Linked DNA regions of Homo sapiens: regions 1, 2, 4 and 5 are each linked to region 3. The links come from fine-mapping of genetic effects on gene expression. A gene starts in region 3. Each other region holds a variant in brackets. All regions are shown on one strand. Distances are from middle to middle. Region 1 overlaps CNN3-DT (CNN3 divergent transcript). Region 2 overlaps SLC44A3 (solute carrier family 44 member 3). Region 3 holds the start of SLC44A3 (solute carrier family 44 member 3). Region 4 overlaps SLC44A3 (solute carrier family 44 member 3). Region 5 overlaps SLC44A3-AS1 (SLC44A3 antisense RNA 1).

The links. PIP is the estimated chance that this variant, and not a neighbour inherited with it, causes the effect.
Region 1: its variant is the best candidate, but not a certain one, in a credible set for the expression of SLC44A3 in breast (GTEx, PIP 0.79).
Region 2: its variant is the best candidate, but not a certain one, in a credible set for the expression of SLC44A3 in thyroid (GTEx, PIP 0.81).
Region 4: its variant is the best candidate, but not a certain one, in a credible set for the expression of SLC44A3 in sigmoid colon (GTEx, PIP 0.83).
Region 5: its variant is the best candidate, but not a certain one, in a credible set for the expression of SLC44A3 in blood mononuclear cells (TOPMed, PIP 0.69).

Annotation. Positions count from the first base shown.
Region 1 is chr1:94,960,864-94,967,354 of GRCh38, reverse strand. CNN3-DT (CNN3 divergent transcript) reads right to left here. Exons shown (of 3, transcript NR_168377.1): 3 at 4,085-4,376. Among named protein-coding and RNA genes, the nearest start is that of CNN3, 37 kb to the right of the region's middle. The variant G/A (reference allele first, on the strand shown) is at 2,996.
Region 2 is chr1:94,858,699-94,865,189 of GRCh38, reverse strand. It overlaps SLC44A3 (solute carrier family 44 member 3), which reads right to left. Exons shown (of 15, transcript NM_001114106.3): 11 at 291-447. Among named protein-coding and RNA genes, the nearest start is that of SLC44A3, 42 kb to the right of the region's middle. The variant G/A (reference allele first, on the strand shown) is at 3,086.
Region 3 is chr1:94,816,501-94,822,707 of GRCh38, reverse strand. SLC44A3 (solute carrier family 44 member 3) reads right to left here and starts at 2,351. Exons shown (of 15, transcript NM_001114106.3): 1 at 2,230-2,351; 2 at 1,652-1,759. The coding sequence starts at 2,256. SLC44A3-AS1 (SLC44A3 antisense RNA 1) reads left to right here and starts at 2,476. Exons shown (of 6, transcript NR_160780.1): 1 at 2,476-2,752. RefSeq lists a silencer at 2,158-2,347.
Region 4 is chr1:94,839,488-94,845,978 of GRCh38, reverse strand. It overlaps SLC44A3 (solute carrier family 44 member 3), which reads right to left. Exons shown (of 15, transcript NM_001114106.3): 7 at 5,942-6,031; 8 at 3,855-3,979; 9 at 515-701. Among named protein-coding and RNA genes, the nearest start is that of SLC44A3, 22 kb to the right of the region's middle. The variant C/T (reference allele first, on the strand shown) is at 3,561.
Region 5 is chr1:94,766,977-94,773,467 of GRCh38, reverse strand. All of the region lies in intron 1 of SLC44A3-AS1 (SLC44A3 antisense RNA 1), which reads left to right. Among named protein-coding and RNA genes, the nearest start is that of MIR378G, 24 kb to the right of the region's middle. The variant T/C (reference allele first, on the strand shown) is at 3,256.

The sequences.
Region 1 (6,491 bases), 140 kb before region 3:
TATTCCAGTTCTGAAAAGGAAACGAGTCAGTAACAATGGAAGGATTTCCTTACATTTTTCTGCTACTGTTCTGGAGAGCGGCACAGTGGTCTCAAACCCAGATTTGTTTAACCAAACCTGTTAACATGATATTTTTCATAAATTTACTGGATTGTAAATAGGAGTTAATTTACTCCCTATCCAAATTATATATTAAATATTTTGGAATACTAAGGCTCTGGCTTATACCATTGTTTGCTGTATAATATAGTCAGTAATCATATGTCCAACATTTTTGGATCTTGTTTTCCCCAACTTCTAAGCCAGGGATTCTTAAACTGGAGTCCATGGAAATGGCTATGACTTTGGGGATTTACGTGTATCTATGTATTTTCTGGAAGACAGCTATAGATTTCATTAGATTCTCTGTATACCTTCCCCTCTCCCCCTGCAGAAAGATACTAAAAGATTCTGAGGCTTTTTAGAGAGGGGCTCTTCCAAAAATGAAGAGTATAAAACTGTCTCTGGTGGCCGGGTGCGGTGGCTCATGCCTGTAATCCCAGCACTTTGGGAGGCCGAGGCAGGCAGATCACAAGGTCAGGAAACTGAGACCATCCTGGCTAACACAGTGAAACCCCGTCTCTACTAAAAATACAAAAAAAAAAAAAAATTAGCGGAGTGTGGTGGCACGCACTTGTAGTCCCAGCTACTCAGGAGGCTGAGGCAGGAGAATAGCTTGAACCCGGGAGGCAGAGGTTGCAGTGAGCTGAGATCACTCCACTGCACTCCAGCCTGGGTGACAGAGCGAGACTCCGTCTCAAAAATAAAAAAACAAAACAAAAAACAAAAACCTGTCTCTGTGGACAGCGGAATGCCAGAAAAAAAGATAGAAAACAAGATAGTAGATTTTTTTTTTAAGAAAATGGTTTTTTTTTTTTTTAACAGAAATCTGCCTTGAATTTTTTTCTCTCCTGAGCCTCTTGGCCATTGTTAATTGTTATTTAGTATTCTTCACTGTGAATTACTTTGTGGGTGACTGTAAATTACTAGATTCTATTTTAACTAAAGGAGCCAACACAGCAAATTTATGTTCTGTTATAAATTAAGTAACGTGATGACATATGCTTAGTGGTTAGACTGACATGCAAAATAAATCAGATGTAATCATGTGAATATAAGTTTGAGATACAAAATAGCCATTATGGGGTTGAAACAAAAGACAGAACCATAGGAGTAGTAGTTTGCCAAAGCACAAATAAGCTAATTCTGCTTGCAGTCAGCAAAAGAAAAATAAATTAGATATTTTTCTTCTTCTTTGAGTACCACCAACAGAAGTTACTAACTCAGATGTGAGGCCAGGTGCGGTGGCTCACACCTGTAATCCCAGCACTTTGGGAAGCCGAGGGGGGCAGATCACCTGAGGCCAGGAGTTCGAAACCAGCCTAGCCAACACGGTAGAACCCCATCTCTACTAAAAATACAAAAATTAGCCGGGTGTGGTGGTGTGTGCCTGTGATCCCAGCTACTCAGGAGGCTGAGGCAGGAGAATCGCTTGAACCCAGGAGGTGGAGGTTGCAGTGAGACGAGATCATGCCACTGCACTCCAGCCTGGGCAACAGGCCAGGCCATCTCAAAACAACAACAACAACAACAAAAAAAAAAAAACCTCGGATGTGAAAACACAGAATTTAGAGATAGAAGGTCTATAACTGGACACCTCACTTATATTTTTAGCAGGTGAGGACACAGGACCAAAGATACTCCAAGACACAGGTGGCTGGTCACAAAAGCCCTAACTAAAACTAAGGCATTCTAGCTCCTAGGCCGACTTTCCACTCCACTGCATTTTACCCAAAGCACTAAAGAGAGAACAATTGACTTTTGAATTATCATGCAGATCTATTAAAGAATACACAGGCCGAGCATGGTAGCATCTGAAATCCCAGCACTTTGAGAGGCTGAAGTGCGAGGATCACTTGAGGCCAGGAATTCAAAACCACCCTGGACGACATAGTGAGACCCTATCTCTACAAAAAATTTTAAAAAATAGCCAGGAGTGGTGGTGTGCACCTGTAGTTTCAGCTACCCTGGAACCTGAGGAAGGAAGATAGCCTGAGCCCAGGAGTTCAAGGCTGCAGTGAGCTATGATCATGCCACTGCACTCCAGCCTGGGCAATAGAATGAGACCCTGTCTCTAAAAAAAAAAAAAACAAAAAAAAAAAACTACACAATTAAAGCACATTTATAGTACCTGAAACTCAGATAACAGCTTGACTACCATGAGAGCTAAAGAGATACCGCCTATCAATGAATAAATGACAACAAGAACACAAACTAAGGCTAAATTTTGTCATTCTGGTTTTCAGAGCAGAAGCTAATTTTTTAAATTGACTTTATTAAAATCATTTTCTTCACTTAAATTTATACTTACCCCGTGGAGGAGATAAAATTAAGGAAATGAAGAACTCTAACTTTTTTGAACATGGGTTTCTATACATTTGAATTTTCTCCCTGATCAGGTTATTATCTGTTATTTTTTTCTTTTTTCTTTTTTCTTTGAGACGGAGTCTCCCTCTGTTGCCCAGGCTGGAGTGCAATGGCACGGTCTCAGCTCACTGCAACCTCCACCTCCTGGGTTCAAGTGATTCTCCTGCCTCAGCCTCTCAAGTAGTTGAGATTACAGGTGTGCACCACCACGCCTGGCTAATTTTTGTATTTTTAGTAGAGACTGGGTTTCACCATGTTGGTCAGGCTGGTCTCAAACTCCCGACCTCATGATCTGCCCGGCCTCAGCCTCCCAAAGTGCTGGGATTACAGGCGTTAGCCACCACGTCCAGCCTCATGTGTTATTTGCATAATTTTGATTAAAAAAAAAAAGACTCTTACACCTTGAGGTTTTTGTTTGATGTGCTGTGCTTCTCATCTACAAGTTTGACACTAGCAGTGGACTATTTTCTACACTTAGCTTATCAATGGAATTCAAAAGAAAAGAAAAATGACATAATTTTATTTTTGG[G/A]GAAACTCAGTCTTATTTCCTTTCTTGTGTGATTCTCCAAGGAAAAATGGAGACCAGAAATTTGGTTAAAATATAACTTATAACTGGAATAAATTTTGGCATCTTTGGGGCCAACCCACAACTCAGAGGGAAGCCCACTCTGGAGGCTAAGAAACTCCCAGGGTTAATTGCAGCTAGTAAACATGGATGGCAGGGCTTAAATCCCTGCCTCCATTCTCGTATTTATCCTCCCATTACCCACGGTGATTGCATTCCTGCAGTCAAGGGCATAAGTCATCCAATTTTACTTCCCATTGGTTTTCTATAGCTCCCATTGGGCTGTCCCATCGGAAGTCATTTGTTATGAGACAGAGTCTTGCTCTGTCACCTAGGCTGGAGTGCCTAGGCGTAATCACCGCTCACTGCGGCCTCTGCCTCCAGGGCTCCAAGGCTAAAAACTTTTCTAAATGTTATTTTTGGCTGGGCGCAGTGGCTCACGCCTGTAATCCCAGCACTTTGGGAGGCCGAGGCAGGTGGATCACCTGAGGTCAGGAGTTCGAGACCAGCTTGGCCAACATGGTGAAACCCTGTCTTTACTAAAAATACAAAAATTAGCTGGGCGTGGTGGCGCATGCCGGTAATCACAGCTACTCGGGAGGCTGAGGCAGGAGAATTGCTTGAACCTGGGAGGCGGAGGTTTCAGTGAGCCTAGATCGCACCATTGCACTCCAGCCTGGTGACAGAGCAAGACTCCATCTCAAATAAATAAATAAAATAAAATAAATGTTATTTTCCATACTTCAGGTATGTTTTGTTCTACTCTTAAGGGGAAAAAAACAACCTATGTAAACTAAAATTCAGTAACCCAGTAATTCATCAAGTTTCTCTGTTATCTTAGAGGCACTATAGCAGAATGGTTTAATACCTGGACCCTGGGGTCAGGCTGCCTGGGTTCAAATTCTGTCTTGCTTTTTACCTGGGCAGGCCACTGCACTTCACTGTGCCTCAGTTGTTTCATTTGTAAGGTTAGGATTATAGTTGTAACATCTTTATAGGGTTGTTTTGAAGATGAAATGAGTTAATAGATGTAAAGCACATAGTAACACTCAGTAAACACTCAATAAAAAGCTTTATTAACCTTAATATGTTTCTTCATAGCCCTTGTAAAACCCTAGCCACTCTTTTGCAATAAAGCATTTTCAAAAAGTACCATCGATCCGGGGTTATCTCTGTGTTCTTTTCCTGGAGGATCCTGAGTGCGGGCTGTGTCGACATCACGTCATTAATGTCTTCTGCTCCCTGCACTGTGGTCAAAGGCTTTTCAACGTAGCCTTGGATCCCCTGGGTTTGCTGCAGTTCAGTGCACCTCAAAGCACGATAACAGGAACTGAAATGGCAGAAACTGAAAGCAAAATAAAATTCAGCCAGGAAACACTTAGCTGTTTTTCCCTTTGCTCTGCATGGGGAAAAAAAAAAAAAAAGAGGAGGAGATAAATCGAAAACCTGTAAAATCCAGCATGTACTTCAGGGTTGTTTTAATTTTCTAAATATAAGTACAGTCTTCATTCCTCCCTCCAGCAAATATCTATTGAGTGTTTACTGTGGTGTGCCCTGATTCCCCATAGACATCTGGTGGCTATCTATCCTGGATTTTCTAGAACAATCCTAACTTTAAATGTCTTTGGTGTCTTTTCATGAAAATACATTTAAAAGGCAGTGGAAAAAAGCCTTTCTCAGGCCCCATGGCCAGAGTTTTGTTCCATATTTACTTTCAGCTGTGTTTCTGTTTTCCCCAAGGTCAGGAGCCGCCCAGTAAAAAAAAAAAAAAAAAAAAAAAAAAAAAATCTCCAAGTCCTGAAGGTACTGCAGGAGCCAGGATAGGGAAATTACTAGATGGTATTCTCTGTTTCTCCTCTGGAGAAAGAGTTTTAAGGGTTAAAATTTTCATCTATAACCGTGGTTGTTTCTTTGGGGCTGGCAATACTGAAAACTAACTTTTTGTATTATACATTCTTATAATGTTTGGTTTTTTTACACTTTTTAATGAGATGTATTACTGCGATAAGCAGAAAAGAAAATAAAAGTTTTTTAAACTACTGACTTACTTCCACAAATAAAATAGACATTCTCTTTTTTAGCAACCCAATAACAAGGGGTAGTGAAAAATGATATGCTCCCTGAAGACAGGGACCGTCTGCTTTTCTCATCTTAGCATTCCCACAGAGGAGCACTGAATAAATATCCATCAAAGGAATGAACAAAGGCCTCCTTCATATTCCTTAAATCATCTTTACTTTCCGGAAAGGAACATGGTAGCTCACCTTAACCATGCCAAAAAACATATACTTTATATAAGTCCAGATTTACACACAAAGGATTATTTACTTGATGAAGGGATTTACCAGATTCCTTTCTACAGCAAAATCTCCTCAGTCGATTTAAAGTGTGACTTGATTTGCTTCATTTTTCTTATGAGATAGTGGAATAAATGAGAACTTCGGTAAACCAAGAGCCGGGAGTGTGAACCCTGCCTTAGCCTCTAGAGTAGCTGAGATCACAGGCGTGCGCCACCACGCCCAGCTAATTTTTTTTTTTTAACCTCTGACCTGTCGTGTGTCCTTGGGCAGGTTTTTTTGTTTGCTTATTTTTTTCACCTCCCTGTGTCTTAGTTATCTCTACTCTAAAATGAGAATAATTGGAAGGGTTATAGGTACCATATTAAAGCCCCTGGGACAGTGCTAGAAGCATAAATATAAATGGCAGCTGATATTCTTATTGTTTATTAAACCTTTTCAAAGTATCCAATGCATGAATTGAAGTGTAATTGCAGTGATAACCACAGGCCCCAAAATGTATCATGGAGGCTAAAACCTAATTGGTTTAAAAAAAAAAAAATCAAGCTTTTTATGCTTCATCCCAGATAAGTGATTTAAATGCTTAGACTCACATCGTTTCATGCTTGGAGTTCTGAGAGCACAAGGGGCCCCCTTTACTTCCTTGTTTATGTGACAACAGGGGAAATCTCATCATCCTCCCCTCGCCAGGCTAACTTTTTGAGGTTCAGCTTGAAAAAAAAAAGAGAAAAGTAGCAGTTATATTTGGGAGCAAGGACTGGTGAGCTTGGTTACTGGGATTGAACCCTAGCCTAGAGGAATTACTGAAGGTTGAACCCAACAAAAGTACCTAAACCTCAGTCTAAAGTTTTCAATCCAGGCCAGGCGTGGTGGCTCACTCCTGTGAACCAGCACTTTGTGAAGCCAAGGAAGGCAGATGGCTTGAGCCCAGGAGTTTGAGACCATATGGCCAAGATGGTGAAATCCTGTCTCCCCTAAAAAAAAAAAAAAAAAAAAAAAAAAAAAAAAAAAAAAGAAAAATTAGCCAGGCGTGGTGGCACAGGCCTGTGATCCCAGTTACTCTGGAGGCTGAGGCAGGAGAATTGCTTGAGCCCGGGAGGCGGAGGTTGCAGTGAGCCAAGACGGCGCCACTGCACTTCAGCCTGGGTGACAGAGTGAGACTC
Region 2 (6,491 bases), 42 kb before region 3:
CATTTACATAAGAAGGAAAATCAGCTAACTCAGAACTACTCCCTCCCCACGCCATCTCCACCGAGTTGGAGAAAACCCAATAAACAAAACCATAAACAAAACACAGACTCTGGGAAAATAAAAGTTTTGCTGGGAGAGGCGGGGGATGGGAGCTGAGGAGTGCAGGAGCTTTCTGCACGGCCCGCTGTCACAGGTCACATTTCTGTCCTGGGACCTGCTGTAGTTTTCCAGTAATTAAGTTTCTGGCAACCCAAACACAGAACGTGCTGTGTATCAGGAGGTAGCCTTACCTGTTCTTTCAGTGCGTTTTGCATGTACATGACAATGATTCTCGGAATCCTCACCACAGAGATTAAAAATGACCCTTTCACAACGGTTCCTTGATGGTAGAAGAAGAGAATGGAGAGAGACGAAAGGATGGGATGATCAGGAGGATCATTTTTACTTCTGGAAATAGGGAAAAGGATAGCATTTTAAAAACACTTTTTATAAAGCAGCAAAAGCTCTCTGGTTCCAATCATCTGTGGTACTAACAACTTAGAAAGTTGTGACATAATAAGCATTTGGCGAACTTTTTATACTCCTTGGTAGCTTCGGTTAAATTGTTTCTTGTATTAATTTAATTCGTTTTGGTGCCACTTAATGCTACAAATAAAACAGAAAAAATTTAAAAAAATTGATGAGTTAAAAAAGTTTCCCTCTTCATAATGCAGAGCCCATCCACCAACCCTTTAGGGTGCCTATTCATCTCATTTTCACTTTCAGAATTTTAATTGCGGCACAATCTCCAAGGTTTAACTTACACAGGAGTATACATAAATATTGCCAGCATTCACCTGGTGATTAAAAATCATCACCAAATCACATGACCAGGATCAGTGGCCAGAGAGGTAATAGTGAGCTCCCACTTACAGGAAAGGGACAGAAAGCCCTGGGTGCTTGGCTCCTACACAGCTCTAGGCTCCCCAAATCCTGCTGGTTTCTACTCTGCTCTTTAAAGGTCACTTCAGTGTGAATCATTTACGGGACTTGTCATGACGCAGCTCCCAAGAATGTGTACAAGTCAGTTTCACAGGCAGGGAAAAAAAAGTGAGAAAGAACAGAATGGGCACAGCCATCACTCTCCCCTAACCCTGAAAGATAAAACAAAGGAGTGGGGGCTGATGCCACCCCACGGGTGACCCTTTGAATTCCCGCTGAAGCCAGTTCTAGAAAATAAGGTCTTTCTGAGAAGCAACTTCACAGATTCCAAGTGAAGCTTGGTTTCTTTATAATGGATTATTCTACAACTTGCTCTGGTTGCTAATAAGTCACTATGAATTAAGGTTTTGACAGCAGCCTAGGTTTTGAGAGAGGAAAAGGAAGGCAGCCAGAAATGTTTCAAGAGTTGGCAATGGCTGCATTTTGCTGTTACTCAAATCAGCCAGGAAGAAAAAGAGAACATGAAAGTAATATTGGGAGCTGAAAAACTGCAACCCAGTTGTCCCACAAAAAAAAAGGATGTGTGTTTCAACACAGTGTTATTTAAAGTAGGAAAAACCACGGAAGCTATTGCTAATAGGAATTCATTTAGATCTGATAAACTAGAAGAGTAGTGTAGGCCAGGAAAATCTGACACACTTTTTTTTCCCTTCCCTCATTTTTCTTTTTTTTTAAGGAAGAACGTTTACTTTTCCATTGAGGAGATTTGTGTGCCTTAGAACTTATTATGGTGCTCAAGAGGGGAGGCAGGGAGAAGAGGACAACACCTGCTTTCCATCTGGTAGGGAAACACATGATTCATAGGCCTCTGTGAATGAGGGCCTTGGGGTTAGCCCTCCAGGTATTAGAGTTTGGGGTTAGGCATCAGCTTTCTGAGGTTTCACTGTGATGGGGTTAACCACTTCAGGCAGAGGAGTACCTGCACTGCCTCAGCTTCCCTAGTCTGTAACACATCCTGGTTATGGCTGGAGGCTCTGCCTGGCTTGGCTGGAAGAAGATGCAGAGGTTCCAGAAGCTGGGTTATCACGTGATGGGAGACGGAACTTAAAAAGAGGGCCCTTTCAACCCAAGCCAGCTCTTGGAGCCAGGAGTCACTCAATACCTGCCCTCAAAACTAGAAACAGCCCTACAGAAAAAAAAGGCTAATGAAGTGGTGTGTCTCTGAGGCCCCCACCTAGTCTCAGACTCATTTCCATGTTCAAAGGTAACGTCATCCTACCACCTCTCCCCTGCTGTGTGTGGGGCTAGTGCCTCCAGCTCTGTCTCCCTCACAACCAGCCAAACCTGCCTTCAGGAAGAGGATCTGACACACCCAGTGATGCTAAATATAATACTTACCTCTGGACTTATTCATATTTTAAGAATTGACCTGGGGGACAACATTCCAGTGTTGAGCATATGGGGCAACCCAGCGATGAGTGTATTAGGAGGCTGGGGAGGACTGGGCCCCCAGTCAGCCTTCCTCATCTCTCTCTAGATCTTCCCACTGGACCACATCCACCCCAATTCTGTGGGTAGTGGCAATAAGGAAGACACGGGCAGTGTTAGAGGGTAAGGCGACTCTAGCATATGCCCCATGAAGCCCAGCTTCCCCCTTCCTTTGGATGTGTGGCTGCTTTGAGTGCTAATGGTGCCTGGCTCCCAGAACAACGAAGCCAGTTGCCCAAAATACCACATCAATCCAAGCTGTGGGGCAAAGGGTTTAATGGTCCCATCCATCCAAGTCCTCTAACACCTTTGGGTCATGGTACAAAGTACTGTTTTGTAATTTCTACTCCCATCAGACAACAGAGTGCATACAGCCAGGCAAGCCGCATCATGGTCCTAGAGACAAGCTTTGGCTCTAGTTAGATCCAGCCTCGTGCTCACTAAAAACTCTTCTGACATTATGGAGAATTAATTTTGTGCTGAGGCTCCTGGACTAGGTGTGGGCTGCATGGGACAAATGGCCTCCAACGTAAAGCTGGTCCCAGCAAAGGACTGTGTGGTCCCTGTAGAGACCATGTCTCTTCCAGTATTTCTTACAACAAAATCACTGCAAGATGGGGTTTGGAGGGCTGAGAAGGTTGTATGTTTCTTTCCTATTCTACAGAAAATGAAAATC[G/A]TCTTTATTAGAAAGAAGAGGATTCTTTAGCTGGCCTGGGTAACTCTTGCTAGGTTAGGAAATTCATCTATCTCTACCTAAATTCCTTAGGCTCTGCTATGAATCCATTTCCTCTTCTCCATCTGTAGATATAGAGCAGCTGGAAACCCTCTTTTGTATATTTGAAAATGATGATGAAGTCACACCTCAAGTGTCCCTCCACCACCCTGAAGGGTTCTAGCTCCTTCCTATCACATCCCTAACACCACCTTTATGGCTCTCAGTTGATCCTTCTTCAAGCAAATGGTTGTAAAAAGTAAATTCTACAGATTGCCCATATCCTGGTACCTGATGGTATTTGTATGAACTCTTCAGCCCTCGTAGTGCATAAATGAATGACAAAGATGAATGCACCCTGGCTATATTTAATCCTCACCCTGAGTGCAGGCCAGAAAAGGATACGAAGAATTGTGAACTTTGAAGATTAGGAAAAATCTTGAGGTTTCAAAATTAGGCAGAAAATCAAAAAGGAAGCAGAGCTCTTTAATAAATGCAATAGTTGTGCTAAAAATAAATCATTGTGTGTTATATTATAAATTAATTTTTTTTAATCAAAGTAATATGTAAAGTGTCTTACAAAGCCAAAAATCACTGCTAGGCTTAATAGGAAAAACAGCAGTTTTCTTCCCCCATTCATAATTCTCTCTCCCTGAGATAATATTTTAGTTGTTATTAGAGAACTCACTTCCACACCTCAAAATTACATGTTCTTACTGCTATTTCTTGGTTTTTTGGCTTCAGATATTGTCTACTGACTTTTCTACTATGAAAGATTCTGGTTTTATTTTCTTACATAGCCTAACTCCCCCAATCTCCTCACACTCATGTTCCCATTCTTCCAATGTAATTACATCAAAGCTTTTAGTTAATGCTTAGTGTTTGTTATTCATACATAAATAATATGTGCTGTAAATAATATTCACAACTGATCTAAGTAGCATATTCCAATTAGATTCCCTTCCTGTACAACTTTTTTTTTCTGAAGTTAATTGTTTCACATTTTTTTATTAGCTTGGATTTCCATGGGCCTCACCGAACGCTTCACCAACGTGTAATGCTTTTCTTAACGTGTTCGAACACACCTGGTATTCCCTCAGTTCCATTTTCTTTTCATGGTGACATCTCTCCTGGAGCCCATTGTCTACCTTGGACTGGACGCTTTCCACGCCTGCTGCGCAGCTACCCTCCTGGGAATTCCTTGCTCTGCTCTGCTCAAGCCTGTTTTCTGAAACTCATGTTTTCCTCTCTGGCTTACACATGAGTTTCAGTGGGGAACATCCCTGCTAGAAAGGATGAGGGCAGGGAAATCTTGGGACTGCCTGTGCATGACTTTGTTCTTCTTTACCCTTGACTGGTAGTAAGAATAGGTATACAACTCTATACTAGGTATAGACTGGCTATACAATTCTAGGTTGGAAATAATCTTTCACTAGACTTCTACAGCCTTCCTTCACTGTTTTTCTGGTTCAGAGTTGCTGGTGAAAGTCAGATCCTATTCTGGGTCCTTGATCCTTTGCCTGTGATCTTTTTTCCCTCGGGAAGCTTCTGGAATCTTCTTTTTACTTGTGTCCTCCAGCCCTGGCAAATTTTCTTTGTTAATTTCCTCTCTTTCTTCTTTTCTTTGTTCTGTATTTCTGGGCTCATATTAATCAGATAGTGGGTCTCCCAAATTTATCCTCTTTTAATCCTTTCTCTCTTATTTTGTGTCTCTTTGTCTTTTTATTCTACCTTCTGAAAGAGTGCTTCCACTTTATATTTTAATCCTTCAATAGAAAATGTTCACTTTTGTAATCATACTTTTAATTACTCAAGAGTCTTGTTTTCTCACTATGCCCTTCTTTTGTTGGTGGGAGGGGATCCTAGCAATACATCTTTGTTCTCTCTGATAATATTATAGTTTGCTTTGTTGTTTCCTTTTGCAGCCTGCATTGTCTCCGTTTTCCCTAAGCTCATTTTATTTGTTCATTTTGATCTCTTCTTTCACTTAGAGGCATTCATCATGTTTAATAATCACTGGTAAACAGTTCAAATTGAAGAGTGAGGCTCTCCAGAATGACCTGGAAGCTCTGTGTGAGGCATGTTGCTTGTTGTCTGATGAGCTTCACTGTTTTGCTAGGAGTCAGGGAATCCATTTCATTGGGGGACCCCATATGGCACTATCTGTAGGTCTTTACTTTGGGTTAGGCAGTTTCTCCACAAAAGCATCCTCTAACCTCTTCCTAGGGAATATCAAATGAGCTGCCAACATTCTGGGAGCTGAACTGTGGAATGTGGGGTGCTGGTGTATGTGGGGGACCTCATTTCAGTGTTTAGGCTTTCACTTACTCCCCCTGCTTTCAGTACAGAGACTTGCCCCCAGCCTCAGCTGTACCTGATACCCCAAGTCCAGGCCCTCTCTGCTTTCCCTCTCTGGAGAACAAATTTTCCTGTCTTCAGCTGGTGTGGAATTTGGGGGTCTAACTACTCCTGAGGAAGGCTTTCAGCTAATCTTTGGAAATACTTTTTATACTTGAATTCCTGAGCCTCTCTGGGATTCTGTGGCTCACTTCAGGCTGCATCTTATTTGTCCTCCTCATGCAGCCAACACACACGGACAGGCTGCTTCTGCTTTCTCCAGCGGGCTTAGGGCACTGCTCCACCTCCCTCTCTTTGGCTCTCACCATTTGGTTGGTGTTTCTTATCTGCTGTCATTGCCTCTCTGTTTCTTACTGTCCTGGTGTGTTTGTGCCTGTTTCAATCTTTCATGATTTTTTGAGTGGCTGGAGAAAGGGAAGAGATTAGGAGATAAATGCATATGCTTCACTGGAAGTCCAAATTAGAAGTCCTCATTGAAAATGCTTTGATTTTGTTATTCTAAGATAACACAAAATTACTGTCAGGCAAATATTACCTGCTGGCAAATTTGGTTAGAATACTCTCTTTGCTCCCCTACCTGGGAGGAAGCAATACACACAACCCACCCCCGGCTGCTTGGAGGTTCTCAATGCCAAGGGCAACAGCCCCTCTGTGAGTCCTCTGGAGTCTCTAATGATGGAGGCTCCGGAACTGCACCACTACATTAAAAACCCACAGTGGTGGCCGGGTGTCGTGGCTCATCCTGTAATTCCCAGCACTTTGGGAGGACTAGGCGGGTGGATCACAAGGTCAAGAGATCGAGACCATCCTGGCCAACATGGTGAAACCCCAGCTCTGCTAAAAATACAAAAATTAGCCAGGCGTGGTGGTGGGCGCCTGTAGTCCCAGCTACTCGGGAGACTGAGGCAGGAGAATCACTTGAACCCAGGAAGCAGAGGTTGCAGTGAGCCAAGATCGTGCCGCTACACTCCAGCCTGGGCGACAGAGCAAGACTCCGTCTCAATAAACAAAC
Region 3 (6,207 bases):
GAGGCAGAGATAGTCCAGACTTTGAGACTTTGTTCCTTATGTTTAATGCAAATATAAACACAGGCTGGTGCTGCATTTGCAAGAACCATCTCTGCTTATAATTTCAGCTCCTTCCCCCAAGCCTTTGTCCAGCCCTAACTCAGGGCACACCATCACCAGTCAGGACATCTGTCACAAGACCTGAAAGCTGAACAACAGAGGCAGAAAAAAAAGTCCAAAAACAAAACACTCCTTGCTCTGTTTTAAATACCTGCAAATAAAAAATGTTGCAAAAGACACTAAAAGCCAGTGAGCTAAGAAAGGACTCTGACTCTTAAAACAGAATGCCATAGTGAGAACTTGGATATATTAAAACTTCAGACTTATTTTGCAAATGAAATGTAATTTTAAAGCAGTTTCCAGCTCCGTGCCACCTCTCAGCTGGTTCACAATTCTTCAGGCTGTGATAGGTCATCTACAAAGATTTTCCCCAGGATTCTCAGCTGTTGGGCTGAGAGTTTGGTAGTGAGGTCCTAGGTTGAAGCTGTGGAGGGGCTACGGCAGATCATTAAATCACAATAACAGCTTGAGGTCAAAGCTGCCAGGCACAAGGCAGGCCAGCTGCTCCCTGCATTTATACAACAGCAGTCTCAGATAAAAACACCAACCATCTGCGAAGTTAAGCAGAAGGTATTGTAGGTGCACTGTCTCTCCCAGCTCCTAGGGGAGAGTTCCAACGTAAGCAACAAAAAACATCTGATTATGTGTTTCAGACCTAACCTTCCACTGTGCCTGTAACCAAGCCTGTCTATGTGAAACGGGTCATAAGTGAACAAATGCCTTTCTTACTTGGAAAGAACAAACATGATATTTTAGGGCCTATTCAGATGGAATTCTTTTCAACAAAGGTAATTACTATCTGGTAGTTATTACCCTGCTCTATAAATTAATCATTTACCATGCAGCAAATAGCATGCCTTATCCTGGCATGGATGATTTCGTGAAAGTGGCCTTTGAAAATGTCGGGTGAGACGTTTTCTGCTGTTACCTACAATTCTAAAATAAGTATAAAAGCAGCAAGATTCGGCTTCCAACAGACTCTCTCAGGATTATAACCGCATAGCCTGATGGAGTTTACCAGCAATCATACATACCTCGAAATTAGAGTGGGAAAAATCATTCCTTGTTAGCTATGGTTAACAGTGTTGGCTGCTAAACACAACATATCTCTCGCGCGCGTGTGTGTGTGATGTTCAGCTAAAGGAAATGCAGTTTATTTCTAGGCTTACCCTGGCTTTTCCTTTGTTAAAGGTGCACCAAAAGCTTGAGGAATATTTGATTTGGGGGTGTGGCAGGTGCTAAAAGAACTTCTGTTCAGTAAGTTCGGAGAGTAAAAGGAGACACATTGGCCTTACTAAATAGCAATCACATTGCAAACTGTTAATTCCCATTTCCTAATGGAGTCACCCCTTAGAACATGGCCTGTAGCAAAAAGACAGCCTTTCTAGCGAGTCTAGGACAAGAATTCTCCCGAGTACAAACTGATGTTTATTGTGGGTTAACGGCAGAAGTCTCTCACTGCAGCACCAACTACGATTTACATTTGGGACAGAGTTATTTCCAGACGTGCACACACACTCTGGCCTCTTTCCTACCAAGCACCCACACTTACCAAACCAGTCCAAAAGAGAAAGAACAGGAATAACCATGCCGTATCTGTGCATTTCCTATAAATCTGGGGTCGCCACTCCCTTTGCCTAGGGGCTCCTTCTGCAGAAACCTTCCAGAAAAAGGGAGAGTTGAGAAAAAGAAGATAAACAGGTGGACTCAACCTGGAAACCGAACCCAAATCTACTCGAAGAGGGGCCAAAGTAACCAATCTTTTTCTAAATTTTTAAAATTAATATTATTTTTTTACGTGGCCACCTGAAGCTCTTTCACACAGCCTTTGAAACACCTGCTCTGCGCGGAGCGGATGTTAAGCCCCCTGCCGCCAAGTGCTTACCTGGAGGTGCACCTGAGGACGACCCCAAGTTTGCGCCCCGCGGCCCGCGTCTCCCCCGCCTCCGCCCCAGCACTGGAGCAGGGTCCAGGTTCCTCCCCGCCAGGTGGCCCCAAGGTACTAAGCGGGGGCGGGATCCCCGAGGCGCGGGAAAGGCGGAAGCGTCCGGCAGGGAAGGTGCGTGAAGGCGGGGGACTCGACCCTTCCCCGGGGCTCCTCCCCCGAGGGCCGAGGCTGCGAGCGCTTACCAGGTACTCGGCGCCCAGGCAGTGCATCGTGCGCTCGCCGGCGGGGGCCGGTGACTGGGAGCCGCCGCCGCCTCCTGTACGCGGAGACGCAGCGCCCGCGAGCCGGGGCCGGGGCCGGGGCTGGGGCTGGGGCTGGGGCTGGAGCCGGGGCCGGGCCGGGGAGGGGCGGGCACGGTGCAGCGCCGCCTCCCGTTCGCCTCTGCGCCTGGCCCGGCGACTGCGGGCGCTGCGGTCCACTGGGTCCGCCTCTTCCCGGCATGGGTTTCTGCCCAGCTCACCCGCTGTCAGCTGGGGTCCTGCTCTGGTGGGAGGAAGAGGCTCAGACGCTTCCCTGCCCTCTCGCCTCAACCACCTCGAGGCAGCGGCTCCCAGGATGTGCACTTTGACGACTAAAGCTGAGCCGGCGCCGCCACGACCTTGGGCGGGTGGTCGGCCTCTGCCCTGAGCAGGAAGTAGAAAGTCTCAGCAGACCCTTCCTGAGGGCCGAGCAACAGTGTAGTGGCGTATTCCACATAGCAAACAGGTAAGCAGCATTTACTGTGTGCTGGATTCTGTTCTCACTGCTATTGTTATTCCTAATCTACGGAGGAGGGAAACTGAGGCACGGCCATTGGTGATGCAACTTGTTCGAGGAGACCCAGTAAGTTGTGGAGGCAGGAGTCGAACCCAGACACTCCGGGAGACCGGCGCTCTCGAGGTGGTTTACTCTGACTTCTCTCCCACCTTGCCTTAGGACAATCATTGCCTGACTTCGCAATTGAAATGGTAGTGTCCACTGAAGCGACTGGTGGCATAGTTTTCCAGGTAGTGTCAGACCAGCGCAAAAGCACTGTTGGGGTGAGGAATTTAAAAAACGAAAAACAAAAAAAACTGCAGGCCGACCTCCCCCCACCTCCTCTCAATCAAGCCTCTACCCTTCCCCCTGCCACCCTTAGGGTTGCTAGGTTAATTGCTTCCTTTAGGTGCTGCTTCTCCCTAAGGGTAGAAACCTGACTGGAGGAAAGATCTGGGTAAGTGGGAGAAACTGGGAATGATAGACAGTGGTTCTCTGGTGCCAGCGATTTCCTTCTGGGCTCACACCACCCTCCCACTGCAAACTCACTGGGCCTTCCTGGATGCATGTTTATCAGACAGAGTAGGTGAAACCCCAGGGGAACATGAATTCATAGGACAAAGAATTAGACACTGGAGGAGTGCAACTACTGTTAAAAGACCACAACTGAATAACATATGCCATCTGAAACTGATCAGTAGAGCAGATGGACCAAGATTTTTAAATAAGCATGATAAATTTATTTAAAATGAGTTATGATATTAGCAATATGAATCAGGAAAAAATATGAAACTAAAACATATTAAGCATAAAAATAATAATTAGAATGAATATTGATGCTACGTATTAGTAATGTGCAATAGTCTAAAAGATGCAGCTGACGATGAATTAGTAATTGGAAGAGCACTTTCAGCAAACCTCCAGAGGCAGTAGAAAATGTTTTAAAAAACAAGTTAGCTTATTTGTAAATTTTCTAGCTTATATCTAGGGTAAAACTAGAACAGAAAGGAAGAAATATAAAAACAGAGAAGGGGAAATATTTGAAGATATAATGGAGATAAATTTCAAGGTAGAAAAAAACCTTCAGATTGAAAAGGTTTATCTCAAGCAAAATGTTTCTATATGTAAGTATTTAAAAGCATAACTTTGAACTTATTTTCTATTAAGCCATATTGTCATTAGAATGTGAGAATGTATTAATAATAAAAATATTCTTATGAAAGATTCATTTGAATGACATTCTTGGAGGACATAATCAAGCAAGAAGAGAAACAAATTCAGGAGATGATACAATAGATATAGCATGAGAGTGGCCAAATATTTAGGCTGAATTTATTGTTGTGTTAGAAAAAAGACCAGGAACCACCCAAGTGTCCAGGAACTGGTGGGTGGCTATACATAACTGTGATGCATCTATACGATGAAATACAACTAAGCATTAAGAAGGAACAGACTTCTTACATATGCAAAAACATGGATGATCTCAAATGCATGTTAAGTGAAAAAAAGTCAGATATAATAAGCTACTCTATGATTCCATTTATGTGACATTCTGGAAAAGGCAGAAAATAGATCAATGGTTGTCAGGTGCTGGGGGTGAAGGGAATCTGGAGAAACTTTCTGAAGTGATGGAAATATTCCATTATCTTGAGAATGGTACTGATGACCCAGTGGTATCTGTTTGTCAAAATTTGTAGAACTGTACACTAGAAAAGGTGAATTTTATTGTATGTAAACTGTATTTCATTAAACCTGACTTACAAAAACTCTTTTCAAAAGTCTAAAAACAAAGAACAGTGTATTTATAATGATTCAGACCTAAAATTATAGACAATATCAATATTGTGAGGGGTGTGGGACTCAGGAATGAGAGGCCAAAATGATAGGACAGTGATCTAAAATAGTGCCATTCAAAGGGTGGTTCACAAAACTTAATTGTTCTCTAAGAGATAAGGAGCTTGTACCAGAATGCATATCAGCTATGTCATAAGCAAACTCTTTGATTCAGCTGACACTTTCGTAGCAAGACTTTCTCAATGAAGGAAGCTGTGTGTTGATTTACATGTGGGCTCAAATCTCATTCTGGAATGGATGAGATAAGTAACCCAGTACTACTTAGAGTACTTAGAGTAGTACTGGGTTAAATTACTATCATATGGGAGGAAGACGAAAAAAATTGTTAACTTTAATAAATCAATAGGGATAAATATTTGTGAATGTAGGTCTTAAGGGTAACTACCGTTAAAAAAGAATAAAACATGTAACTTTTAAAGCAGTGGAAGAAAATTTTATCAAATGAAAGGCAAGAGAGCAGAGGAAAAAGGAATAAAAAGAAAGTGCAATAATTAGAATATATGAAATTTGATAGCAGAAATAAAATTACTAATAATAATTTTTACTTTCAGTGTACCTAATATGTTCCAGATACTTTTCTGGGTGTTTCTTATTTGATCCTCATAATAACCTTATGAGGAAGGTACTATTACTTTCATCATCCTCATTTTATAGATGATGAAACTGAGATTAACTAACTTGCTAGAAAGTGGCAGAACCAAGGCCTGAACCCAGGTGGTCTGGATCTAGAACCCATACTTAGAACCATACTTAGAGCTATTCTATGCTGCCTCCTAAATAGAGCAGCAATTACAATAAATGTAAGTGGCTTAAACTAACCAATTAAGAAAAACAGTCTTTCAAATTGAATGAAAGCAAGGGATTCAGCAATATGTTTTCTACAAGAAACTTGTGTAAAACAGACACTAAAAGGTTAAAAGGCTTGAAAAGGATATAGTGCAAATGTGAACCAAAGAAAGCTCATGTAGTAATTTTAAAACCTGACAAAATAAAACTTAAGATAGAAAGTTCATAAGGGAGGTCATAAATGTGCCCAACAATACAGCTTTAATATTTATTAAGCAGCAGCTAACAGAAATTTAGGCAGAAACAGATAAATCAGAATTATAGTTGGAGATTTTTAACTGGCTCCTCTCAGTATCCAATAGATCAAGTAGACAGTAGATACTTCCTCTCCTCTCCCAACACACATACACACAGAAAGCAAATATACAAGGTCTGTACAATTTAATTAATAAACTTGAGCCATTAGATATTTATAACTCATATACGTTTCCATCAAACAGTGAATACATGTCCTTTCTCTTTTCAGGTACATGTGAAACATTAAAGTAAAAACATAAACTGTGTATTAGATCTTAAAGGGAGGCTCAATAAATTTCACAGTGCAATAAAATTAGAAGTAATGAATAACAGTATGTGTGGTGGACAGATTTTAAGGCCCCTATGATTTCCACCTCCTGGTGTTTACACCCTTATGTAGTTCCCTTCTTCAGATATGGGTGGGACCTGTACCTTTCAACCAATTATGATGGTTAATTTTATGTATTATTTTGAATAGGTCAGCCATA
Region 4 (6,491 bases), 23 kb before region 3:
GACGGGGTTTCACCATGTTGGTCAGGCTGGTCTCAAACTCCTGACCTCGTGGTCTACCTGCCTTGGCCTACCAAAGTGCTGGGATTACAGGCATGAGCCATAGCACCCGGCTGCACAATATATTTTTAATAGAGTCTTTCCTGGGTTCTTCTTTGTCACCTACTGATTTGATAGGGGTTGGCAAATTACCTTGGATAAAACTCATACCTGGAGACATCTGGTAATATTCTTGCTGTTGGCCTTTGTTCATATTGTAGTTTTTCCTAGAGCTTTCAGTCCTTACTGAATTTATTCTCTCATGAAACACAAACCCAGCTTCTTTAAAACCAATATAGAAGAGGTAAAAGAACTTCCCACTTTTCCCCATGACAGAGCCCCAAGCACCAACGCTGCTGTCATCAGACACCTCTGGCTCAATGAGGGGTTAGGTGCCTACAGAAACAGGCCAGTGGTTCCAAAATGGTCTTCTGTGTATGACTCCAAGGTGATGGAACCCACACCCACTGTCCCTTACCTGCAGTTCCCAGGCTCAGCAGCACAGCCACCCAGAGGACCCAGAAGAAAATGAGGATGGCAAATGTCCACAGTGGCTGGAACAGCAGGAAGGGAGCACTGCTGATGGCTTTATTTGTGATTTGGAAAAGCTCAACTGTCAATTTTATTCTCTTTCTGAGAACAAAAATCAAGACGAGCAGCACTGCCTGGTGAGAAAGGGATTTGAGTAAATTACTTCCAAATAATGGAGAACTGGGTAGAGCTTAAAGCAAGCCCTACTATTATTATGACATCTCAGCAAACAGCTCTTTTAAGATAGTTACTCACTACTTTGTTATAATTTTACAGATGCATTCGCAAACACTAACTGAGCATCTAGTAAGTGCTGGTCCCTGGAATAGATCTTAATAGACATAATAGCGAAGAAGACACAGTCCCTCCATAAAGGGCCTTGTAGTCTGGTCAGTGAAAAAGATAAAATGAGAATAAGGTCTTCTAATGTCAAGGAACTGTCTTATATCCTCCCCTCCACATCCCACAGAACCCAAGATATTGCAAAAGTCAAGGGAATATGAGTATGAGGCAAAAAGACTCAAAGCCACCTTCTGTGCCTTCTTCTAGCTTTCCCTCCCTGCATATAAACATTTACAAATCTCATATTAATGAAACAAACCATTCTGCACCCCTCCATCCCCATCCAGCCACTGCCGTCTCTTACTGTTTTCATGGCCGAGCTTCTTGGCTTGTCTACACCCATCATCTGTATTTCCATACCCCAACTCATTCTTCAACCACCCACAAACATCCAGATCCCAACACTCTTTTGAAACAGCTCTCTCTGAAGTCACTTCATGTGACCTCCTGAATGTTAAATGCCATGGAAACATTCCAGGTCTTGCTTGACTTCAGCATAGCATTAGATCCCTTGTCCACTCCTCTTTTCTCGAAACATTTTCCTCCCTTGGCTTCCATGATCTTTCTTTTAGCTCTCCTACTTCTTTAATTGCTGCTTCTTGAGATCTTCTGGGGGTATCTCCTATTCCTCTGTGCTTTCAGCATCCTTCCTAGATGCTGACAACCTCCAAATAAAAACCTCCAGCCTCACTTTCCTCTAGGTGCTGGAAGAATAAGCACATCAGTTATTGACAAGGCCGTGGATGTCCTACAGTATGTCAGACTCAATTTATCCTGAATCAAATTCATTATCTTCATACTAGAACCTCCTCTTCCCCCTGTATTCTTTACCTCCAGTGGCCCTAATTTTTCTAGACTTTCCAAGAGTAAGTTAGGTTCCCCTCTTGTGTGCTCCCATTTTATTCCACACTTACCCTATTGTACTATTTAACATATTCTATAAATGTTTTCTCGTCTGAATTTCCCATTAGATTAGGCTCCTAGAGAGCAGGGCCATTCTTATGGTCAAGGACTGGCAAAGTGCCCAGTACAGTCTCAATCACCTCTGGTTCAGTTTCCTCAATACCGCTCATGCCTTCCTTTCCTCTCTGTTTCCACCGCTGATGCCACAGCTCAAGTCTCAGCCTCTTTCTTCTAGACCCCAATAACCTCATTAGCTTTCTGCATTTAACCTCCCTGACCACCCCCCCCACCCCGCCCCACCTCAGTCCCTCCTCCACTCCACAGCTAAGGGGACCTTTGTAAAGCGCAAACACAAAGATGGTGTTTCTCGGCTCAAAATCCATCTACGGCACCCCAGTGCCTCTGGAGAAAGATCAAACCTATCATCATTGCAGATCAGGACCTTTGTGACATGACCCTCCCTGCACCTGCATCTCAGGCTTCCATCAAGGGAACTTCCTGCAAGTCACACCCCTGCCCATGTGACCTCATGCATGCTGTGCCCTTGGCCTGAGATGCTCTTTCTCTTCCAGCTTTGCTGGAGCGTTTCTGCCGTCAACAGTCAAGTGGAGGAAAGACAGTGACAGTGGATAAACTGCAGAAGCTGCTCCAGGATCTGGGAGCACAGCCTCCTGACCATGCAGGGAGAGGTGTCAGGAGAGGCCCCGCAAGACACCCAGAGGAGACCCTTCAGTTGTAAAGGCTGAGGAGGAACTTCCATCTGGGCTTTTCTGAGGATGAGTGAACTAGCTCATCTAGCAACCGGGAATTGGTAAGAACTCACAACAAATGAACGGGAGGTGAGCTGGGACTCAATTCTGCCTTATAGAGTAGCCCCTGTGCAGAACTCATGGACCCAGGTGAAAACAGCCTCCCTGCTCACATGGCCTCCCCTCTCCCTAACCTTGCCCCGGCCCTGAAATCTGGGTGGCATAAATGGTGCAGTGTACAAACAAAAAGGGAGCCCTGTGGAGGGTAGACGGAGGAACTGGACCCTCCCCAGCCCCCAGCCCTGCTCCTCTTCCCCTATGCCCAGCCTGGGGAATGGGGAAGCCCTTTCATCTCCAGCCTCCTCTGCAGACTCTGTTGAGTGTCTGGTCTGGTCCCTGCCTGAGGCGAGAGCAACCAGGTGCTTTACTTTATTGTACCCTTACTCCCTGGCACATTTTATGTGAAGATCACAAACCCAAAACCTCACCGTGGAAAGGAGAAAATGTGAAAACTACCAAATATGAGAATAGAAGGATTTCCTATGAGAGAATTTTGTTGGTGTGAGAATCTGCATTTGCTGCAAGATTCAATGGGCTTGTGGAAACCCCTGGCTGCAGCTGCTCCACAGAACAGTCAGTAAGCAACACACCAGCAACGACGACTCTGGGGGACCTGAAGCCAGTGTGGGGTCCGCCCCAGGGCCTTGTGATTTGAGCCTTCCTAACGGCCCCTGGAGAGGGTCCTGAATGACATTTGGTTGCCAACCACCCACCACCAGTAACTAATACCTGCTCCCTCAATATTCTAAGTCAGCCTGTTTTCAGCTAGAGAGTTCACTGAGGAGGCAGCAAGTTCTCTGAACACCAAAATAACCCAGTGGCCAGCGGGTTTGGAAACAAAGGGCTCTGTGTGCTAGAGGGCAGCGGAAGCTGAGCATACACTGGCAAAGGGGAGCCGCACCTCACAAACAGGGAATGGGAACTGCCGTAAGCCTGCCT[C/T]CGCCCACCCACCATGCCCACCTTGTAGCCCCTTGGGGCTGAGAACAGTGCAACAGCAAGGATAACACAGTAGTCTCTGGGAGGTGGCAGAAATGACTTGGGAAGAACTAAAACCTTTTTTTCTTATTTTTGAAGAGTTTTGAATTATCCCTATACAGGTATCTCAAATCCAAAGAAGGCACATTCTAAATCAAAAGAAAAACAAATTATAGTTGTTTTTGGCTAGAATTCAATGATTTGGATTTCAGAGTCCTGGCTGGCTACCTGACCTACTGCTAGAAGAGCATTTCTTACCGTGATGCCTGTGGATACGATAGCAAACCCCAGCACGCACTTCATATTTTCCCTTTCTGTGTCCAATTCTATGCTGAGGTCGTTGGTATAGTCATAATACAGCCACCATAAAACACCGCAGACAACTAGAAAAGAGAACAGTAGCAGAGCTCAGGGCACACGCCATGAGGTAACCTTTCCCCAGCACACAGAATCACACAGGAAGTCCAGCCACTGCCCACCGGCCGCGTGGCACTGCTCTGGCAGTGGGTCCCAAATACCCGGACCCTACAAGCAACTGCTGCCCTCTGGAGAAGCTGGGCAGAGCCAGGGCAACCCATAGAGGACCCACAAGTTCTGGGATGATGCTTGTTTTGGGAGACCCAGGATGGTGACCCCAGAACACAGGCACCTAACCCACAGGTTGGGTCTGGATGCGAGCAGGAGGAAAACCCCATGGACAGGATGGTGAGAGGGACAATGCCAGAGCTCACTGTCTAAATGTTTTAAGCAAGCTCTGGTGGTGATAACTCCTGTGGAGCCTGGATATTGGCTGCTCACCCACAAAACCAGGAAAATTTACACGGCCTGTGGGAATCATGGAAGTCAGAAGCTCATTTGGAAGATGCCCTGACATTGCAAGTACTCCACATTTAGGTACGAAATACCACCTTATGCCATATCCACAGTAACTATAGGAAGGTTGGAGTGGACAGGAAGAAACAACCCTCAGAAGTCATTGTGCCTGTCCTCCGACACAGGGCTACAGGGCTCTAAGTTGCTGAGGGCAGAGCTGATGACTCAGGGGAAAGAAACATGACAATCACATCAGTTTTTAAAAATTAAAATATAGTCATCCACTGCATGATGACATTTTGATCAACAATGGACTGCATATATGATGGTGGTTCATGAGATTAATAATACTGTACTTTTCTGTGCTTAGATGTGTTTAGATACACAAATACTGACCATTCTGTTACAGCTGCCAACCGTATTCTGTACAGTAGCATGCTGTGCAGGTTCGTAGCCTAGGAGTAATAGGTTATACCATGTGCCTGGGTGTGTAGTAGGCTCTACCATCTAGGTTTGTGTAAGTGCACCCTGTGATGTTCACACAATGAGGAAATTGCTGAGTGATGCATTTCTCAGAACACATCCCTTCCTGTCATTAAGTGACACCTGATTGTACCCCACACCAGTTGGTAAATGGCTGCTGCCTTGAGCCTCCTGCGTGCCCTTGTCCCTCGGACCTCTTTCCCAACAACTGCTGGTGAGATCCACAATCCAGCAACCGGGAGGGAAATATGGGCACAGTACAGGGTCTCCAGGACTCTGCTTCCATGCAGGCCTGTGTGTCTTCTGGCTGGTCAGAACCTTTACATGACAACTGTGGGCACCCACGTGCCAATGGGTGAGGTGCGCATTCAGAAGAAATCCTTTAAAATGCTCCCAGTGGGTACTGGGATTCTCTTTTAACGTTATGGATACAGGATCACGGTATTGGAAAGCTCATCTCAGGGGCAGCATAGCACAGCAGAAGAAACTACAGATATGGCTGGACGTGGTGACTCATACCTGTAATCCCAGCACTTTGGGAGGCCAAGGTGGGCGGATCGCTTGAGCTCAGGAGTTGGAGACCAGACTGGGCAACATGGCAAAACCCCGTCTCTACAAAAAATACAAAAATTAGCTGGGTGTAGTGGCATGTGCCTGTAATTCCAGCTACCTGGGGGGCTGAGACAGGGGGATCGCTTGAGCCCAGGAGGTTGAGGCTATAGTGAGCTGCGTTCGCGCCATTGCACTCCAGCCTGGGCAACAAAGTGAGAGCCTGCCTCAAAAAAAAAAAAAAAAAAAAAAAAGGAAAAAGAAAAAGAAAAGAAAAGAAAGAAGAAAAAAAAGATTGGTCATTAACTTTGCACTGTCTGTGAGACATAGCAACTCCCATCGTCCTCCCTGAGGCCAAGTTTTCTCATTTGTAAAGTGACAGGGCTAGATACTCTTTAAGACTCCATGTAGCTTAAAAATGCCAACTTTTAAGTTCTGTACTTAATGTAAAGGCTTTTCATTTAATCGAAAAGAAATCAGTCAAGTAGAGAAATACTTACACAACAATCCCAAAATAACCAATGAAATGAAAATGTGAACCAGAAGGGTGGTGATGAATCTGAAGGTAAACATCATGGCCAAAGACAAGGCTGAAAAATTAAGCAAAACACATAAACCTCAATAGCAACAAAGGATAGGGGAGATGATGGTAGTACTGCGATGACAAAACCCTCCAGAACAGTGACGGCTGAGGATTGTATTCAATCTCTAAATATCTTGGGATATCTACTAAACACTAAATAAAAATAACAAGGTATACGTGGGGCAGTCTCTGATGCACCATTCAATCAAGTGTGGTAAGCCTGTCTCTGAAAGTCCTAGTATTCTTCTCAAAAATAAAAAAAATTTGGCCGGGCATGGTGCCTCACACCTATAATCCCAGCACTTTGGGAGGCCGAGGCGGGTGGATCACCTGAGGTCAGGAGTTCGAGAACAGCCTGGCCAACCTGGCAAAACCCCATCTCTACTAAAAATACAAAAATTAGCCAGGCATGGTGGCGGGCACCTGTAATCCCAGCTACTCGGGAGGCTGAGGTACAAGAATCGCTT
Region 5 (6,491 bases), 49 kb after region 3:
ATTTTGCTTTCTCCTGGGAGGTGAAGCCTCTTTCCTAACTCAGGCTGTCTCAGGGTTTTGCAGCCCTCTGTCACAACGAACTCATCAGTGGCTATTTCCTTACGAAGGCTTCTGATAGGTTCACATGCCAGAGTTTCCAACCTTCACCAGCAGCTCAGATTTATGCCCCAGTGAGCGAATGTACTCAGTACTAGTTCCTTCCTATCAGCTTAGGAAAGTGTGTAGTTCAAGGATTTAAATCATTTAAACAAACTTAATTGGGAAAAACAGACACTTTAACTTTCTACCTGATGTCCCCTTTGGTCCAGCCTAGCCACCTCCGGATTTATGATGCAGTGAGTATTGCTCTGTTATTTTATCTCACATATTTTCATGTTTCCTTTTTTTCTTCTTAACTGAGACCACAAATTAGAAAAAACCTTCAGATTCACTTCCTGCGTTGTACACTTGAGCACACAGGCCTAGGGACATCGATTGCCATACTTGAGATCATGCAGCTATTAAGGGGAGGGGATGAGCCAAGGATCCAGGCTCTTCTGATGCCCAGCTCAGGGCTCAATCCACACTGGCTCCATCTTTACATCTAGCCCTGGGTGTTCTTTTTTTATTATTTATTTTTTATTTTTTTGAGTCTCGCTCTGTCTCCCAGGCTGGAGTGCAATGGTGCGATCTCAGCTCACTGCAACCTCTGCCTCCAGGGTTCAGGTGATTCTCCTGCCTCAGCCTCCCAAATAGCTGGGCCTACAGGTGTGCACCACCATGCCTGGCTAACTTTTGTATTTTTAGTAGAGACAGGGTTTTGCCCTGTTGGCCAGCCTGCTCTCATACTCCTGACCTCAGGTGATTAACCCACCTTGGCCTCCCAAAGTGCTGCAATTACAGGCGTGAGCCACTGTGCCCGGCCTAGCCTTGGATGCTTTACTGCATCCGTTTCCCCAACCATTCATGGCTTTGTAACTAGAGCACAGTGTTCTTTCTGTAGAAGGTACTTAAGGAAAGTGTTGCCTAACTTTTTATTTGCTTGGGGTTGAAATGTCAGCTTGCGGGAAATGCTCTAGAAATGTGTGGGGAAACTCTGCTAAGCACCCTCCATGACTCTCTCATTTGGTTTTCAAGGACTGAGGTAGTGATGTCATTCATTCTTGAACAGAAAGAACTAGCCAAACTTGTTTTCAGAGTCTAACACTTTGAATAGAGGCTAGAATTCTCTTACTGACCATCACGCCATGTACAAAACATTGCCAATAAACTGCTGAATCTCTGCATCTCTTGGGCTTAAATGGAAAAGCGTCTTCTCCAACCTGGGGAATAAAGTATAGGCTTTGTAATTTTATGTAAGGAAAACCCAATACTAGTTACTCTTTCTGGCATGCTTACTATGTGCCACATATATGGTGCCTCTATTATGCTGTACAAATGTTAATTCATTCAATCCTTGGCCTTAAGTGGTAAAATTTATATTATTCTGAATTTTATAAAGGAAAAGAGTGAGGCTCAGTTGCTTTTCCAAAGTCGCACAGCTAGAAAGTGGCAAAGCATGGAGTCAAATTGACTATAAGCCCTGCAGACCAGAAAAGGTGACACTTTGCCTTTGAAGACACAACAAGAGGGCTTTCCTGGATGTCTGCCAGAAACTGCTGTCTTCTGGCAGGTTCTGGGCCTCTATTTTCCATGTTCAGACTCCTAAAGGGAACAGGAGAACACTTGTTTATTTCTGTCTTCTTCTGGTCCCACTTTTACATCCCATCCCCATGGGAGGGTAAAAAAAGAAGAGGAGGCCCATCCACCTCCACTTCTCCTCTTGATGTTTGCACCAGTGGCCATAGAGATGGGGACAGACCGGACTCTGGTGCCATGGACTGGCACATGGTCTCAAGTTTCTGGCCCTGGGGTTGGAATACAGTTCCACTTGCTCTGTAGGAGATCAGAGGGATGCTATTTACAAACATTGAGTTATGTGAACTCATTTCAGTGGATTTGGGAAAATTACTCTCCATGGGAATAAAAGTTATCAAGAAAGAATTTTTAAATACTCTATATATTTGCAGGTCGAATTTATTATTTCCTAATACAACTAATATAATTATCCTCTCCCATGTTCTTCAACAGATGTATTCCAGAAACATTTTGTCTGAATCTTTAAAAGACTGCTTTGCTTTTTCTGATATCAGGTCAATAGAGAAATGTGCCACCCTGCTAGTAAAAGCCAGTTTTTGAGCAATATCTGCATAACTGTTAAATGTGTTATTATTATTATTATTTTTTGTCTAACTTTCATCCTGCACTCTTCAGCAGAACTAAAGATACTCCCTGTTCCAAGGAAGCTCATAATCTAATAATGCCATTGGAAAGTCACTTGTTATTAGTGTAGGCCTTTTGCAAATACCCTCCAAAAAAAGCTTAATGTGAGTTTTAATCCAGATAAATAAACCTATTAAGAAGGAAAAGGAGAAGGAATAAGTCTCATGAAGATTTACTACTCTTGGAGTTTGTTTTCTTCGCTGTAAGGAAGAGTTGTTCCCCATTGCTTCAATCACAAAAAACCATTAAACATAGACCAAGAAGGGGGAAAAAAACCTTACAAGATCACTTTATAAGGGACAATAAGTACTTGAAAATTAGAAAACATCCCTTTAAATTTGGGAAGTCTTTAAGTGCTCTGGGTGAATACATGAGTGGTAGTAAAGAGTGAAGTGTGCAAACTCCAATCTACAGTCAATTTGGCAGCAGAATTCTCAGTGTGCTACGGAAGTAAGCAAATGTTAGAGAGGTAAACAGATTCCAGATTAACTTACCTGGAAGAGTCTCCAAGAGCAGCTGGGAAGCAGAAGAATGCAGCTCCTTTCTTGCCATCTGGTTTGACTGGAAATCCACTGGTCTGGTGGTTCCATTGGCATGGGGGCATTACCCTCCTCCCCTTCTCCCCAAACCCTTCAAAATTTCCAAGGAAGCCTGTCAAGCTCAGTTAAGACTCAATGTGTCCCCAGGGTCCTTTTTTGCCACATGGAAGAAGAGAGAATGTGTCTTATCTTGATGATTTTCTTCTAATCAATTTGAGTGTCAACAGCTAAATTTGAAAAATAGAATGCAAAGTGAAGACTAGATTTATCATTGTTAAGCTAGGAAACCAAGAGTCTGCATTTCTGTATTCTAGGGTGAAAATGGAAATTCACCTGTGGAACTCACTGGCCATTGTGGAAGAAACAGTAAGATGACCCTCCCTTCATTATGCTGGCCAATATGGTATCAGATCAC[T/C]TTGTGTTTCCACTTCAGAACTTTGTGGGTGACTTTTGTTCACTGTTGTATCCCCAGCACCTAGAGCAGTGGCTCATGAAAAATAGAGTTTCAATAAGTATTTGTGGGAATGAATGAACGTTTGATCAAAAGAGGTAATTCTCTCATGCTGCCAAGATGAATGTGGGGGCTTGGAAATGTGTTCCTAGAATCCTGCATTGGAGATTGAAACTCAATTGGAGCTTTCCTATGGAAGCAATGTTACATAAAGTGATTGGGAGTTATTGAAATAGTGCTCTTGGCACCATGATAGCTGTAGGCACTTGTGGCTTGGCATGATGACTTTGTTATAGTCTATGTCACTGTTTCCATGGGAAAATACATTCTGGGTCCCAGGACTTGGCTTATAAGTGACTTTGGAAATACAAACCAGTCTTAGTTGAGACCTGCCCGAAACTTTGGTTTGACTGTGGCTGTCTTGGAATGTGTCCAAAATAAGGCATTGCTAGGAAACCTGAGTGGCCTTTCTTCTTGTGGCTGGTTCCTACCAGGAAGGGTGGTGTCATGTCAGGAATGTAGACTTGAAGTTTGTAGACCATACCATGCTAGCTATGACCCTTCCTTAAGTGGCCTAAAAAGACTAGAGGATTTTTAATGGACTGGGGAAAGGTCCTTCCAGGTATGTTAATATCCCAAACAATTTAGCTACATAGAATGTGGCCCAGAAACATCACAGTGGGTCACCAGCAACCATGACATTCAGTGAGGTTCAGAGACAATCAGGGTATTATCCTAGAAGATCATAATGTTGGGTATAATATTTGTGGCATAATTGTTGTTTAATCAGCTCTGGGATATGGCTGGGCTATCTTACAGAACAAACAGCCTCATGCACGCTGATGCACATTTGAAGGAATATCCTTCATGTAGACTCATTCAGACATCCCAACCTGCTTTTCTGCAGATTGGGGGTTGGTGTGAGGAGCCAGTAGTCTCAGACAGCACTAGTATTGAGGCCATGGATGTCCAGGGAGAAGCCTGGCACCTTATTCTTTGGCATGAAGACCGTGGGGCCTCAAGGGAAGGTGGAAAGTCTAAGGCTCTCTGGTCATAAGATAGGGTCACCTGGTGATGGAAGGGCTGCAACTGGCCCTGAGAGGGTTCCTGACTGACCACACAGATGTACTTGCTGGGACATGAAGAGATGTCTCTGCCATGAGGCTGGTGGGTCTTGGCAGGGGACAGGGGCAGAGTTGGAAACAGAAATCTAACACAAAGGTGAGAGAGTGATTTTAAGTTGTTGGAGGAGTTATGAGATTCTAGCCAGGGTGTAGGGAATGAGGTAGGGGTGAAGGACAGCACTGACCTCTTGAATAAGGGCAGTATCAGTAGATACTGTGTCACTGTGTCCCCTTCAGGGGCCCCTCTGGCAGTGAACGAGGCTAATACAGTGTGTTTCTGCTCAGGCTTGTTAATGCCTTTCATTGCTTTCTCTCTGTCCACACAGGAGGCTGCTTGTGTTAGCCTCATTTTCGGTAGACTCTACTCAACTGTGGCAATGATGGGCACCTGTAGTACCAAGCTCATATCTCACTAGATTTGCTGCAAAGAAGACCAAGCAAAGTTCCAAGGCTGATGCTTTGCAGCCCAGAATGGATCATGACTATTACCTTGATTGGCCAGGCCTAGGACGGGGGTAACCACTCTCAAGCCCTTGGACTGAGACTGGGGGAAAAGTGGTTCCCCAGGAAAAACTGAGTTCCTATTATCTAAAGAAGACATGAATATTCAGCAGAAAAACATCACATTTCCACACTTTTAAACTCTGAAATATGTGGCTAGGTATAAGTCAAAGCCAGAAATTAAATGAGGGAACAGTTCTCTGAGGCCTTCACGCAGCTGTTAATGTTCCTAGAAAGTGAAGGGGTTTTCCCTGATCTATTCTATAACGTATCTTAAGTAGAGTACTTTCAAGTTCTTGTCCTGGAAAATCACCACATGATTAACAAACCCATAGACTGGAAAATTGGGGAAGGGCAGGCAGAAGACTACAAGAGAACTCTTGTACCCTTTCAACAAATAGGCAGCATCACTTAGCACAAAGGAGGAAATGAAGCAATAATTGAAACCATGAAGTGGGTATCTTTGTATGCGTGCATGTTGTGAAAAAACGTGCATCATCCACATTAACACATAGCCAGATGAAAACCCAAGTCATCTCCTTTACTGTAATATTATTAGAAAACAGTGATACTTATTATTTCTTCATCACTTTCTAAGTTACGGGTTAATCTAATCTTGCAATGAGATTCTTCTGCATCAGGTAAAGTTACTCTTATTCTTCAATGATACCTCTTCAAAGAGTCTTTCCAGATTCATGTAGGGAGGGATCTTTTTTTCTCCTTCTTGGTAGCTGCTCACTGCTTTTTGTGCATGCCAGTATGATAGCACTTGTCGTGTGGCACTGTGATTTTTTATTTGTTCAAAAGGCTCTATCAGGCAAGAGCTATGGGCTTTGAGGTGCATCACTTGACTTCCCTGAAACACAAACTGGTAGAATAACAGTTCATCCCTCTTAGGGGTATTGCAAGAATTAAATTAAATGAGCTGTTGCATGAAAAGCACTTAGCATAATACCTGGCTTATAGTGGGAGCCCAGTAAATATTGGCAGTTAGCATTTTAGTGTTTATTCTCATTAAAATAATAATGATTATAATAATTATCATTGCTATGTCCTCTACTAGGTGGAGAAGTGCTTGAGGGCAGGGACTGTTCTGAGATCATAGTAGGTACTCTGTGGAAAAAAAGGAGGGAGGAGGGAAATAAAAAATGGAAACAACAAAGAGGGCAGCAATACCAGGTTTGCCCAGAAGTGACAACTCTAGGTAGCCAGAAATAGCCTCTCCAGCTAGAAGGGATCTCATGACCTTTTGTTTTATAGAAAAGGAAATGTAGGGGCCAAGAAAGGTTAAGGAGCATGTTTAGGATCACAGTGTTGGCAGCAGTGGCCTGGAATCCAGGCTCTCTCCTGGGGTTAACCTTCATAGCCCCTGCTTTATTGGCATCTCCACCTTCCTTAGTAAATGCCCATGTATCCATATGGCTTGATAAACCTTGGCTGATGTCTGCCACTGAGAGAATAGGGCATTTCCTATCTATCCCCAGATGGAGACTGAGGAGAACATGGATATTTGATGGGAATGTAATGTATTCGTTATCTTTTCAGTGTCTTTCTTGTAAAACCCAAAAGGCAGCC